Linked DNA regions of Homo sapiens: all the other regions are linked to region 1. The links come from fine-mapping of genetic effects on gene expression. A gene starts in region 1. Each other region holds a variant in brackets. All regions are shown on one strand. Distances are between the middles of the regions.

Region 1 (2,739 bases):
TCCCCTGGCCCTGTCTTTACCCGCGCCCCCAAGACCCGCTCCCCTGGCGCTGTCTTCACCCGCGCCCCGCAGACTCGCTCCCTTGGCCCTGTCTCCACACGCTCCATGAGGACCCGCTCCCCTGGCCCTGTCTTCACCCGTGCCCCGCAGACCCGCTCCCCTGGCCCTGTCTTCACCCGCGCCCCGCAGACCCGCTCCCCTCGCCCTGTCTTCACCCGCGCCCCCAAGACCCGCTCCCCTCGCCCTGTCTTCACCCGCGCCCCGCAGACCCGCTCCCCTCGCCCTGTCTTCACCCGCGCCCCGCAGACCCGCTCCCCTCGCCCTGTCTTCACCCGCGCCTGCGGACCCGCTCCCCTTGCCGTGGCTTCCCCGGGCGCGCGGGGCCCCTGTTGGGTCCTTGGGTGGAACCTCAGCGCCGACCCCCGGGTCTGGGCGGGCCCTCCACGCGCTGGGAGGGCGGGATCCGCAAGGCGCCTCACAATCGCTGACTGCGGACGCGGGTGTCGCCGCGGGAAGTTCAGCGCCGGGTCGGAGGGCGCCCGCTCCGGGGGTTCTGACCCGGGCGCGCCCCCAGCCTGGTCCCGGCCCGGCGCTCCCGTCCAGGCCCCGCGCCGCTGCGGCCGACCTGGGGCCGGGGCGGCGTCCGATTCCCGCGCCCCCGCTCACCTGGTGGCCGCCTTGGTGAGCACCGGGTAGAGCCGCAGGAAGAGCAGGTACTGGGCGAGCGCCCGCCGCGGCAGCGCCCCGAGCCCGGCTTCGGCCCGCAGCCTGGACGCGGCCGGCGCCATCGCCTCCCCAGCGCCGTGCCGCCGGGGGCACCGACCCCACCTCAGGCTGGCCGGGCGCGGAGCCCGAGGCGCCGAGAGCGGAGTGGGGACCGCCTGACATTTCCGGCCCCACCGCGGCCCGCAGCGCCGCCCGGTCCCAACCCCACGGTGCGCCGCGCGCGCCTACCACACACTTTTCCCCGGTCCCTGCCGGCCACCTCCCCCGCCGGGCGCCGGCGCCAATTGGAGCGCCTCGGGGGGCGGGGGAGGGGCGGAGCGCGCCTCTTGATGGACGGCGGCATTTCCGGCTCTCGCGAGTCTGGGTGGGAGCGCGCCAAATTTCTCCCCTGAAGCAGAGGTGGTAGCCAACGGCTCCATGTCTCTGAGGAGCGGCGGGCGGCGGCGCGCGGACCCAGGCGCGGATGGCGAGGCCAGCAGGTGAGGGGCGCCCTCCTGAGGCTCTCGGGCCGGCCCTCCGGAGGGTGCCATGGGGCCGTCCTCGGCTGGCGCCGCCGAGGCGGGAGGGAGGCCCGGTTCCCGCAGCCGCCCGCACTCGCCGCGCCTGACTGGGGTAGGGCGGCGCGCCCCGACCGCCGACGGAGGGGCTCGGGGCGGGCGGAGGCGCTACGGGCGCGGCTTCTTTGCGGGGAAACGAGGCGGGCCGCGCGGCCTTTCCCTGCTCGGCTCTTTCTGAGGTTTTTCGGGCCTCGCCTTCCGCGCAGCTGCGTTTGGGACCTGCCGCGCGGCGGGGGCGATGAGAGCGGCGGGACCCGGGCCAGGCCCTGCGGGGTGGACGCGCGGCTGGGGAGGGTGCGGGGAGGGGCGGGGCCGGGGACCCTGCCTGGGGGCCTAGCGCTGGGGGAGGCCGAGGCGGGCGGATCGCTGGAGCCCAGGATCCTGTTCTAGATCAGCCTGGGCTACAGAGAGAGACCTCGTCTCCTCTGTTTTATTTTTTTGGGCAGGGAGTCCCGCTCTGTCGCCCAGGCTGGAGTGCAGTGGCGCGATCTCGGCTCACTGCAACCTCTGCTTCCCGGGTTCAAGCGATCCCGCTGCCTCAGCCTCCCGAGTAGCTGGAATTACAGGCGCCCGCCACCAGGCCCGGCTAGTTTTTGTATTTTTAGTAGAGACCGGGTTTCACCATGTTGGCCAGGCTGGTCTCGAACTCCTGACCTCAGGTGATCCGCCCGCCTCGGCCTTCCAAAGTGCTGGGATTACAGACGTGAGACTCCGCGCCCGGCCCTTCTCTTGTAAAAACAAGAAAAATTAGACAGGCTGGTGGTGCGCGCCCGAGGTCCCAGCTATTAATACTCCCGAATCCGAGCCGGAGGTTCACCTGAGCCCGGCAGGTCAAGGCTGCTGTGAGCCGGGATCGCGCCACCGCACTCCAGCCTGGGCGACGGAGCCAGACCCAGTCTCAAAAAAAATAGAGCAAGGATAAGACGCGGCTGCTTGGTGGCCAGAGCAAACGGTAAACATGACCGGAGGACTGGCCTGCCATAAGCAGAAAACGGATGAGGCCCGGCGCGGTGGCTCACACCTGTAATCCCAGCACTTTGGGAGGCCGAGGCAGGAGGATCACCTGAGGTCAGGAGTTCGAGACCAGCCTGACCAACATGGAGAAATCCCGTCTCCACTAAAAAAATACAAAATTAGCGGGGCGTGGTGGCGCATGCCTGTAATCCCAGCTACGCAGGAGGCTGAGGCAGGAGAATCACTTGAACGCGGCAGGCGGAGGTTGCGGTGAACCGAGATCGCGCCATTGCACTCCAGGCTGGGCAACAAAGAATGAAACTCTGTCTCAAAAAAAAAAAAATAGAAAAAACGTGTGAGAACGTGAAGCTTTTTACAGACACTTAGCTGAACAAAATTCTTCCCAGAGGAGAAACCAAGTGGTAAGGATCCCTAACTGCTGTTGTGCTCATCGCTGTCTGTCCATATCAGGCAAGCCCTAGAGAGGCAGGTACCCTTAGGG
Region 2 (2,739 bases), 190 kb before region 1:
CACTCCAGCCTGGGCCACAGAAAGAGACTCCGTCTCAAAAAAAAAAAAAGAAAAAAAAAATCCCAAAGTGTCAGAATTACTGTATTCAGCTATAGATGCATCCCTGTATATAAGATGCAGTTTCTTATACGTGTACAAATGCCTATCGCAGGCCAGGTGCGGTGGCTCAAGCCTGTAATCCCAACACTTTGGGAGGCTGAGGCGGGTGGATCAAGAGGTCAGGAGTTCAAGACCAGCATGGTGAAACCCCGTCTCTACTAAAAATACAAAAAATTAGCTGGGTATGGTGGCGCATGCCTGTAGTCCCAGCTGCTCAGGAGGCTGAGGCAGGAGAATGGCTTGAACCTGGGAGGTGGAGGTTGTGGTGAGCCGAGATGGTGCCACTGCACTCCAGCCTGGGCGACAGTGCGAGACTCCATCTCAAAAAAAAAAAAACAAACAAAAACAAAAAAAAAAACAAATGCCTATCACAGTTGGCTCAGTCACTTTTTCTGTGACTGTCATTGCTTCAATTTTATGTTGATTTATGAAACCTAAGTTTACACAGAAAAGAAATTAAGGACTAAATTAAGATACTGAAGAATTACTTAAGCCCCTGAGTTTTTTTTTTTCTTTTTTTTTTTTTGAGACAGAGTCTTGCTCTGTCACCCAGGCTGGAGTGCAGTGGCGCCATATCGGCTCACTGCAAGCTCCTCCTCCCGGGTTCTCGCCATTCTCCTGCCTCATCCTCCTGAGTAGCTGGGATTACAAGGCGCCCGCCACCACGCCCGGCTAATTTTTTGTATTTTTAGTAGAGATGGGGTTTCACTGTGTTAGCCAGGATGGTCTCGATCTCCTGACCTTGTGATCTGCCCGCCTCGGTGTGAGCCACCGGACCTAGCCAACCCCCTGAGTTTTTTTAAAGTTCTAATAATACTCATCAGGTTAGCTGTGTATGCAAGCATATTGTAAAATTGCTTTTTTTTTTTTTTATTTCCAGTTGGAGTCTAGCTCTGTCGCCAAGGCTGGAGTGCAGTGGCGCGATCTCAGCTCACTGCAACCTCTGCCTCCTGGGTTCATGCGATTCTCCTGCCTCAGCCTCCCAAGTAGCTGGGATTATAGGCAACCGCCACCATGCCCAGCTAATTTTTGTATTTTTAGTAGATATGGGGTTTCACTGTGTTGGCCAGGCTGGTCTCGAACTCCTGACCTCGTGATCCATTCACCTCAGCTTCTCAAAGTGCTGGGTTTACAAGTATGAGCCACTGCGCCTGGCTGTAAAATTGCCATTTAAGAGGCTGTGTGTAACTGGAGGTATTGATGGGTGTCTTTGAGAGGGTGGGGATTCAGAAAGGTTCAGGATGGGCCGGGCGCGGTGGCTCACGCCTGTAATCTCAGCACTTTGGGAGGCCAAGGTGGGCAGATCATGAGGTCAAAAGATCGAGACCATCCTGGCTAACATGGTGAAACCCCGTCTCTACTAAAAACACAAAAAATTAGCCAGGCGTGATGGCGGGCGCCTGCAGTCCCAGCTACTCTGGAGGCTGAGGCAGGAGAATGGTGTGAACCTGGGAGGCGGAGCTTGCAGTGAGCCGAGATGGTGCCACTGCACTCCAGCCTGGGCGACAGAGCGAGACTCCGTCTCAAGAAAAAAAAAAAA[AT/T]TTCTTTATGTCTTTCTTGGTCAAGTGTTTTTTTTTACATATGTACAATGGGGATCCTGAGTTGGAACCACATACTTTGGTAAACAAAGTGCAGTAGTGTTCACAGTTACCACGATCATATCCCGTGTTGACCCACCCTCTCTTTTTTAGGTTGCGACCTTTCCTTCCCCAGCAATAAACTGGTCTCTGGAGATCACTGTAGAATTGTAGTGGATGAAAAATCAGGTCAGGTGACACTGGAAGATACCAGGTGAGTATGTTCTGAGCTTCTTTTGGTGTTTCTTCTTGTAGCTTAAGAAGCCTGACTTCGTGCTCTGTGCTGTGTGCCACGGCTGAGGAGGAGAAGAAATGCTGTCTTTAGTGTGATAACAGCGGCTCATTTTTATAACAGCACAGTCATGTGTCCCTTAGCAACAGGGATCCAGTCTGAGAAATGTGTCAGACAATTTGATCATCTTGCAAACATCATGGAGTATACTTAAACAAACCTAGATGGTGTAGCCTACTACATACCTAGGCTATATGGTATAGCCGATTGCTCCTAGGCTATCAACCTATACAGCGTGCTACTGTACTGAATGCTATAGGCAGTTGTAACACAATGGTAAGAGTATTTATCTAAACACAGAACAGGTGCAGTAAAAATATGATATTTTAATCTTGTGGGACTCCTATCGTATATGCGTCTGTTGAAAAAAACATTATTATCAGCCCGGGCGCGGTGGCTCACACCTGTAATCCCAGCACTTTGGGAGGCTGAGGCAGTTGGATCACCTGAGGTCAGGAGCTCAAGCCCAGCCTGGCCAACATGGAGAAACCCTGTCTCTCTTAAAAATATAAAAATTAGCCGGGCGTTGTGGCATGCGCCTGTAATCCCAGCTACTCGGGAGGCTGAGACAGGAGAATCACTTGAACCCGGGAGTCGGAGATTGTGGTGAGCTGAGATGGCACCACTGCACTCCAGCCTGGGAAACGAGTGAAACTCCATCTCAAAACAAAACGAAACAAAAGTTTATTATCTGGGGCATGACTGTAGTTAATTAGGCTCCCAAGGTATTAGAAGATGTATTTCCTGGTTTCCAGGATGGGACACTTAGTG
Region 3 (2,500 bases), 120 kb after region 1:
CTCCTCCTGGGCTGGTGTGTGTGCGAGCGTGTGTCTGTGTGTGCCTGCTGCGTGTCCCCGCCCCACGCCCGCCCCCGCCCCCTGCCAGCACGCGGGCCTACGCACCGGCGGGGGTGCGGCGGGCGGCGTCGGGGGCAGCCCTGCGGGGAAGGGGGCGAATGTGTGTTGGTGCTGGTGTGTGTGTTGGTGCGTGTGCTGGTGTGTGTGCTGGTGCTGATGGAACTCCGCCCGCAGCAGAGCCCCCGGGCCCAGGGAGGCGCCAGGCCGCTCGGCGCTCTGCACCAGAAACCGCGTGTTCAGCTCTTGCCTGAGCAGCTCGTGATCTACAAGAGAAAAAGAGAGAGAGACAGAGAGGCACGTTGGCCGCGGGCTCCCGGCGGGGCGAGGCGGATAGTCACCTGGCACTCCCGGGGTCGGCAGGCCAAGCCGGGGTGGCCGCTCGCCACGTGCGGGCCCAGGGGTGCAGGTAAGAGAGGAGCCTGTGACCAAGTACCAATCAGAATTCCCGAATGAGGCTGGCAATACATGATTGGCTGGCTGAATGAGACCGCCAGGCTGGCATCTAGAGGCAAGAGAGAACACGGTGAGCCCCTCCCCGGGAGCCAGGGTCCAGCCACCCGCAGGCCAGCATCCTGGTCCCATCCCGGGACACGGGGCCGTCCCCAGCCTGGGCCGGGCTGACTCGGAGCCTCAGGAAGCGCCTGGGGGCCGAGGGAGGAAGCCTTCGCGGTCGGGGTTCCACTGGGATGGCGCCTGCTTGATGTGCGGCCCCCTCCTCCCAGGGCTCAGGACCCAGCAGGCTGCGGGGGAGGCCTGGCCCCAGGAGGGGAGGCCCGTGCGCCCGTCTCAGTGTGAACACGCGTCTGTACGTGCATGGGCACGTGTCCTGCCTGTCCCCGCACACAGATGGCCTGTGGCCCAGCAGAGACTCCTGGGGAAAGGCACACCTGGGGGAACCACTCAGAGAGGCGCGCAGGGTCCGCAGAGACCACAGCAGGTGGAGGGCCAGGCTGTGCGCCCCTCCCCGGTGGCCGTGTCCCCGCACCCCCCAACCCCTGCCCTGGGCGAGATTGTGGCCGAGACACCTACCGGCCGGGTGTCCTGGGAGGACCAGGCTGCTGGCCGGCAGCGCCGGGGGCGGGGGCAGTGTCGGGGGTGCGGCAAACATGGCCGCGTGGAGCTGGTGCTGCGCCTGGGACCGGAGCGCCAGGTGTGAGGTAGACAGGTGGGGGCCCGGCCCGTGTGGCGACAGCGACACGTGCTTCCCCAGGCCCAGGGGGGCGCTGCTGCTCCTGCTGCGGGACACGGGGCTCAGTGCCTGCCAGCCC[G/A]ACCCCTGCAGAGCCCCCATCCTGAGACCACACAGGCCCCGTCCCCCGCGGGGACCCCACCTGAGGCCGTGCAGGCCGTTGGCTGCCGCCTGGCTGTGGCCCGCGAAGGCGCCCAGGGATGCAGGCACGTGTGTCGGGAGCAGGCCGCGGGGCTGCGGGGGTGGCGGCTGCGGGGTGTGGCGGTGCGGGGCGGGGGGTTCCTTCTTCACCAAGGGATTGGCGCGGGAGCCGGGCGGGGGCCCCGGGCAGGGCGCGGCATGGGGCGCGGGGCTGGCAGTGGGCAGGAAGCTCTCGGCGCTGAGCTCGCGGCTGCGCTCCAGGCCTGACACCTTGGGCACCGGCCCGGCCTTGGCCTCCGACTTCTCAAGCGCTGGGCCTGCAGAGAGAGGGTGGCTGCGTTCAGACCAGCAGGGCCTCGTCCCTGCCCCTCCTGTGGCCCAGGGAGCCCTGGTACGTGCCCGGTGCCCAGGCTATGTCTGGGCTCCGGCTATGCCCCCATTTCAGATGAGGAGGCAGGCACGGAGGCCACACAGCTAGCTGGATCTCACCCGAGGCTCCAGGCCCCGCCCGGCGGAGGGAGCTGGCTTGGGAGCCTGGGCCGTGGCCAGGGGTGGGGGTGGGTAGCCCACCTGCCCGAAGACGCATCACTGGCAGGGACAGGACAGGCCCTGCAAGAGTCAGTCCCTGGACAGGGGCTGCTATGACCTCATTTAACAGACAAAACCAAGATACATCAAGGACTTGGCCCAAGAGGGGAGCTGGATTTGAACACGGGAGCTAGGGCCTGTGTACCTAGGCCTCATGTTCACGGCCCCTGGATGTGCCCTCAGCCCAGGGCATGGGTCTGCCCCACCCCAACAGCAGCGCCCACAGCTGTAACCACCTTTTCTTTCTGGAACCCCCTGGTGGAAGGCTTGACCACTTCCTGGAAACTTGGGCAGGGACTGGGTGGGAGGCTTCCCCCTACTGTGACTGCCCGTCACCCGCCACCCTCAGCCCTGCTCCCTGGCCACCCTTCTGCCCACCTAGGCACGTCCCCCGCAGGTCCTGTGGGCCCCTCTGAGCCCCTGGGGCCTGCCCCCCCCACCCCCGCACACCCCAAACCCTCCTTTTCAGGCCCCTTCGGGCAGGTCTCAGATCAAGTCCCCAGGAGTCAGGAGAGGGCAGCGTCC
Region 4 (2,739 bases), 30 kb after region 1:
AGTGTTGAAGCTTGATGGAGCCGAGTGGATCATAGTGTGCGTGTCTTCTTTAGGTCTCCTTATGTTTGCAGTATTCACCACAGATGTTTCCTCCAGTGAAAGGGAAGCACTGACGGTTGCCAGTTGCTTTGCTAGTGACATGAAAACAGGCTCGTTTTTTCTAGAAAGCAGCCTGAGTCTTCTGTGTGTTACTCAGCAAGGAACATGTAGACATGGTTATGAACGTGCACGTTTGCCTGTATGCATGCACGTGGTTACTCAGAAACGCAGACATGTTTACGCACACACGCATGTCTTTGCCTATACGCATGCGCGTGGTTACTCAGAAACGTAGACATGTTTACGCACGCATGCGTTTATGTATGTGCATGCACATGGTTATGCCGTGAGAAACATGTAGACATAGTTACGAACATGCACGTGTTTGCCTGTACGCATGCACGTGGTTACTCAATGAGAAACGCAGACATGTCTACGCACACGCATGTGTTTATGTATATGCATGCCCATGGTTACGCTGTGAGGAACATGTAGACATGTTTACGTGCACACACGCACGTGTTTACACATACGCACGTGTTACTCCCCGAGGAACCTGTAGGCATGTTTGTGCATACATATGCACGCAGATGTATACATTGATGTTTGTGAACAGCTGTTACACGTCCTTATTTCCATGTTCATTTGATAAGAGTTAGGATCAGATTTTGGGTGATTTTCACTGTTACTGAGCTGTGTGCCTGTCTTCCTTACCCAGGGCCATCCCACTTGCCATTTTCCAAGCAGAGCCCACGGTGAGGAAGCACTTTCTCCGGAAATGGCTCAAGAGCTCTTCCCTTCAAGACTTTGATATTCGAGCAGTGAGTGCCAGTTGCGTTCTCTACTCTTAAAAGTTTACAAGGAAAGCTAGACAGAGCAGAATATGTCTGAGTTGGATTATGTTTTTTGTCTGGCGTCTTCACTCTTGACTTCCTCCTTTCTGATAAGTAATAGGTGAGCACCTAATAACCTTTTAGGGCAAAACTGAAAACATGAAGTGCCTGGGGCCCTTTAGCTGTTCTATTGGATGGACTAAGGCCAGGGGTGTTGGCTCAGCCACCTACTAGCTCTGTGATCTAGAGGAGTCAGTGAAGCTCCCTGCCTTGGTGTCCTCTGTTGTGCAATGGGCACCTTTCATCATAGAGTTTCTGAGAGGATTAAATAAGACACAGTGGTTAGCCCTGTGCTCAGCATGAAGTGAGCCCCACTCTTGGCTGCTGCCACCTGCTGTTCTCTGTGCCCGTTTCCTGCACA[T/C]GCAGATTCTGGATTGGGACTACTACATTGAGCGGCTGGGAAGCGCCATCCAGAAGATCATCACCATCCCTGCGGCCCTGCAGCAGGTAAGGGCGGGGTCAGTGGCACGGGCTGTGGGGCTAAAAACTGTGCAGTTAGACAAGGGTCTCTCTCTGATGGGTGTTGGCCTCACACAGGTAAAGAACCCAGTGCCACGTGTCAAACACCCCGACTGGCTGCACAAAAAACTGCTGGAGAAGAATGATGTCTACAAGCAGAAGAAGATCAGTGAGCTCTTCACCCTGGAGGGCAGGAGACAGGTGACGGTGGGGCCCCAAGGCTGGGCTGGGCGGGATCCTTGTGACACACAGGACTCCAGGCTTCTTGCGCTGCTGTGTGTGCTGTAGTGAAGCTTCTGTTCAAGCATCGAAAATGGACTTTTTCTGAAAATGTGCCCATTGGCACTTTACTCTCTAACTCTGAGTGTCACTCTTTTGTTAATAGGACACCATTGTGAGGCTGAGGTGAGGGCAAGGAACTGTCTCCTTATGTGAAAATATTAGGGTGCACTACTTAGACTCAGTGCCTTGGGCAAATCACTGTCTCTTGAAGCCCCAGTTTTCTGAATGTGAAATGAATATCTTCCCTATGGAAACACTTAGAAACACAGGACACAGTGTAATAAAAGGTACAGTGAAAGTCAGAAGAGCAAAAGGAAAATTCTTAAATGCTGAAAATTAAAAGTAAGCTATAAATCAGAGCAGTATACAAACTCACATGACAAGAACAAGGTTCTTTGACCAGGTGCGGTGGCTCACACCTGTAATCCCAGCACTTTGGGAGGCCTAGGTGGGCAGACCACAAGGTCAGGAGATGGAGACAATCCTGGCTAACACAGTGAAACCCCATCTCTACTAAAAATACAAAAAATTAGCCAGGCGTAGTGGTGGGCGCCTGTAGTCCTAGCTACTCGGGAGGCTGAGGCAGGAGAACAGCGTGAACCCGGGAGGCGGAGCTTGCAGTGAGCCGAGATCACGCCACTGCACTCCCCTGGGCGACAGAGCGAGACTCCGTCTCAAAAAAAAAAAAAGAAAAAGGTTCTGAGATGGATTGGATTTTAAAATTTAACTGTCTTATTTGTAAGAGTTATATATGTATTCTTTCCCCTGCCCCCCAAGACGGAGTCTTGCTCTATTGCCCAGGCAGGAGTGCAGTGGCACAATGCAGCTTCTGCCTCCTGGGTTTGGCTCACTGCAGCTTCTGCCTCCTGGGTTTAAGCAGTTCTCCTGCCTCAGCCTCTAGTGTAGCTGGGATTATAGGCACACACCACCATGCCTAGCTAATTTTTATTTTTTTAATTTTTTTCTGCCTCAGCCTCTAGTGTAGCTGGGATTATAGGCACGCACCACCATGCCTAGCTAATTTTTATTTTTTTAATTTTTTTTTTAAATTTTTAGTAGAGACGGG

The links. PIP is the estimated chance that this variant, and not a neighbour inherited with it, causes the effect.
Region 2: its variant is fine-mapped to the expression of POLE in whole blood (INTERVAL, PIP above 0.99).
Region 3: its variant is fine-mapped to the expression of POLE in whole blood (INTERVAL, PIP 0.97).
Region 4: its variant is fine-mapped to the expression of POLE in whole blood (TOPMed, PIP 0.96).

What each region holds. Positions count from the first base shown.
Region 1 is chr12:132,685,720-132,688,458 of GRCh38, reverse strand. POLE (DNA polymerase epsilon, catalytic subunit) reads left to right here and starts at 1,117. Exons shown (of 49, transcript NM_006231.4): 1 at 1,117-1,205. The coding sequence starts at 1,144. PXMP2 (peroxisomal membrane protein 2) reads right to left here and starts at 872. Exons shown (of 5, transcript NM_018663.3): 1 at 667-872. The coding sequence starts at 788. RefSeq lists a silencer at 357-1,666.
Region 2 is chr12:132,876,706-132,879,444 of GRCh38, reverse strand. CHFR (checkpoint with forkhead and ring finger domains) reads left to right here. Exons shown (of 18, transcript NM_001161346.2): 3 at 1,791-1,890. Among named protein-coding and RNA genes, the nearest start is that of CHFR, 9.5 kb to the left of the region's middle. The variant AT/T (reference allele first, on the strand shown) is at 1,640.
Region 3 is chr12:132,569,130-132,571,629 of GRCh38, reverse strand. It overlaps FBRSL1 (fibrosin like 1), which reads right to left. Exons shown (of 19, transcript NM_001367871.1): 7 at 1,389-1,704; 8 at 1,090-1,295; 9 at 399-562. Among named protein-coding and RNA genes, the nearest start is that of MIR6763, 12 kb to the left of the region's middle. The variant G/A (reference allele first, on the strand shown) is at 1,329.
Region 4 is chr12:132,655,989-132,658,727 of GRCh38, reverse strand. It overlaps POLE (DNA polymerase epsilon, catalytic subunit), which reads left to right. Exons shown (of 49, transcript NM_006231.4): 27 at 758-860; 28 at 1,299-1,379; 29 at 1,470-1,592. Among named protein-coding and RNA genes, the nearest start is that of POLE, 30 kb to the left of the region's middle. The variant T/C (reference allele first, on the strand shown) is at 1,294.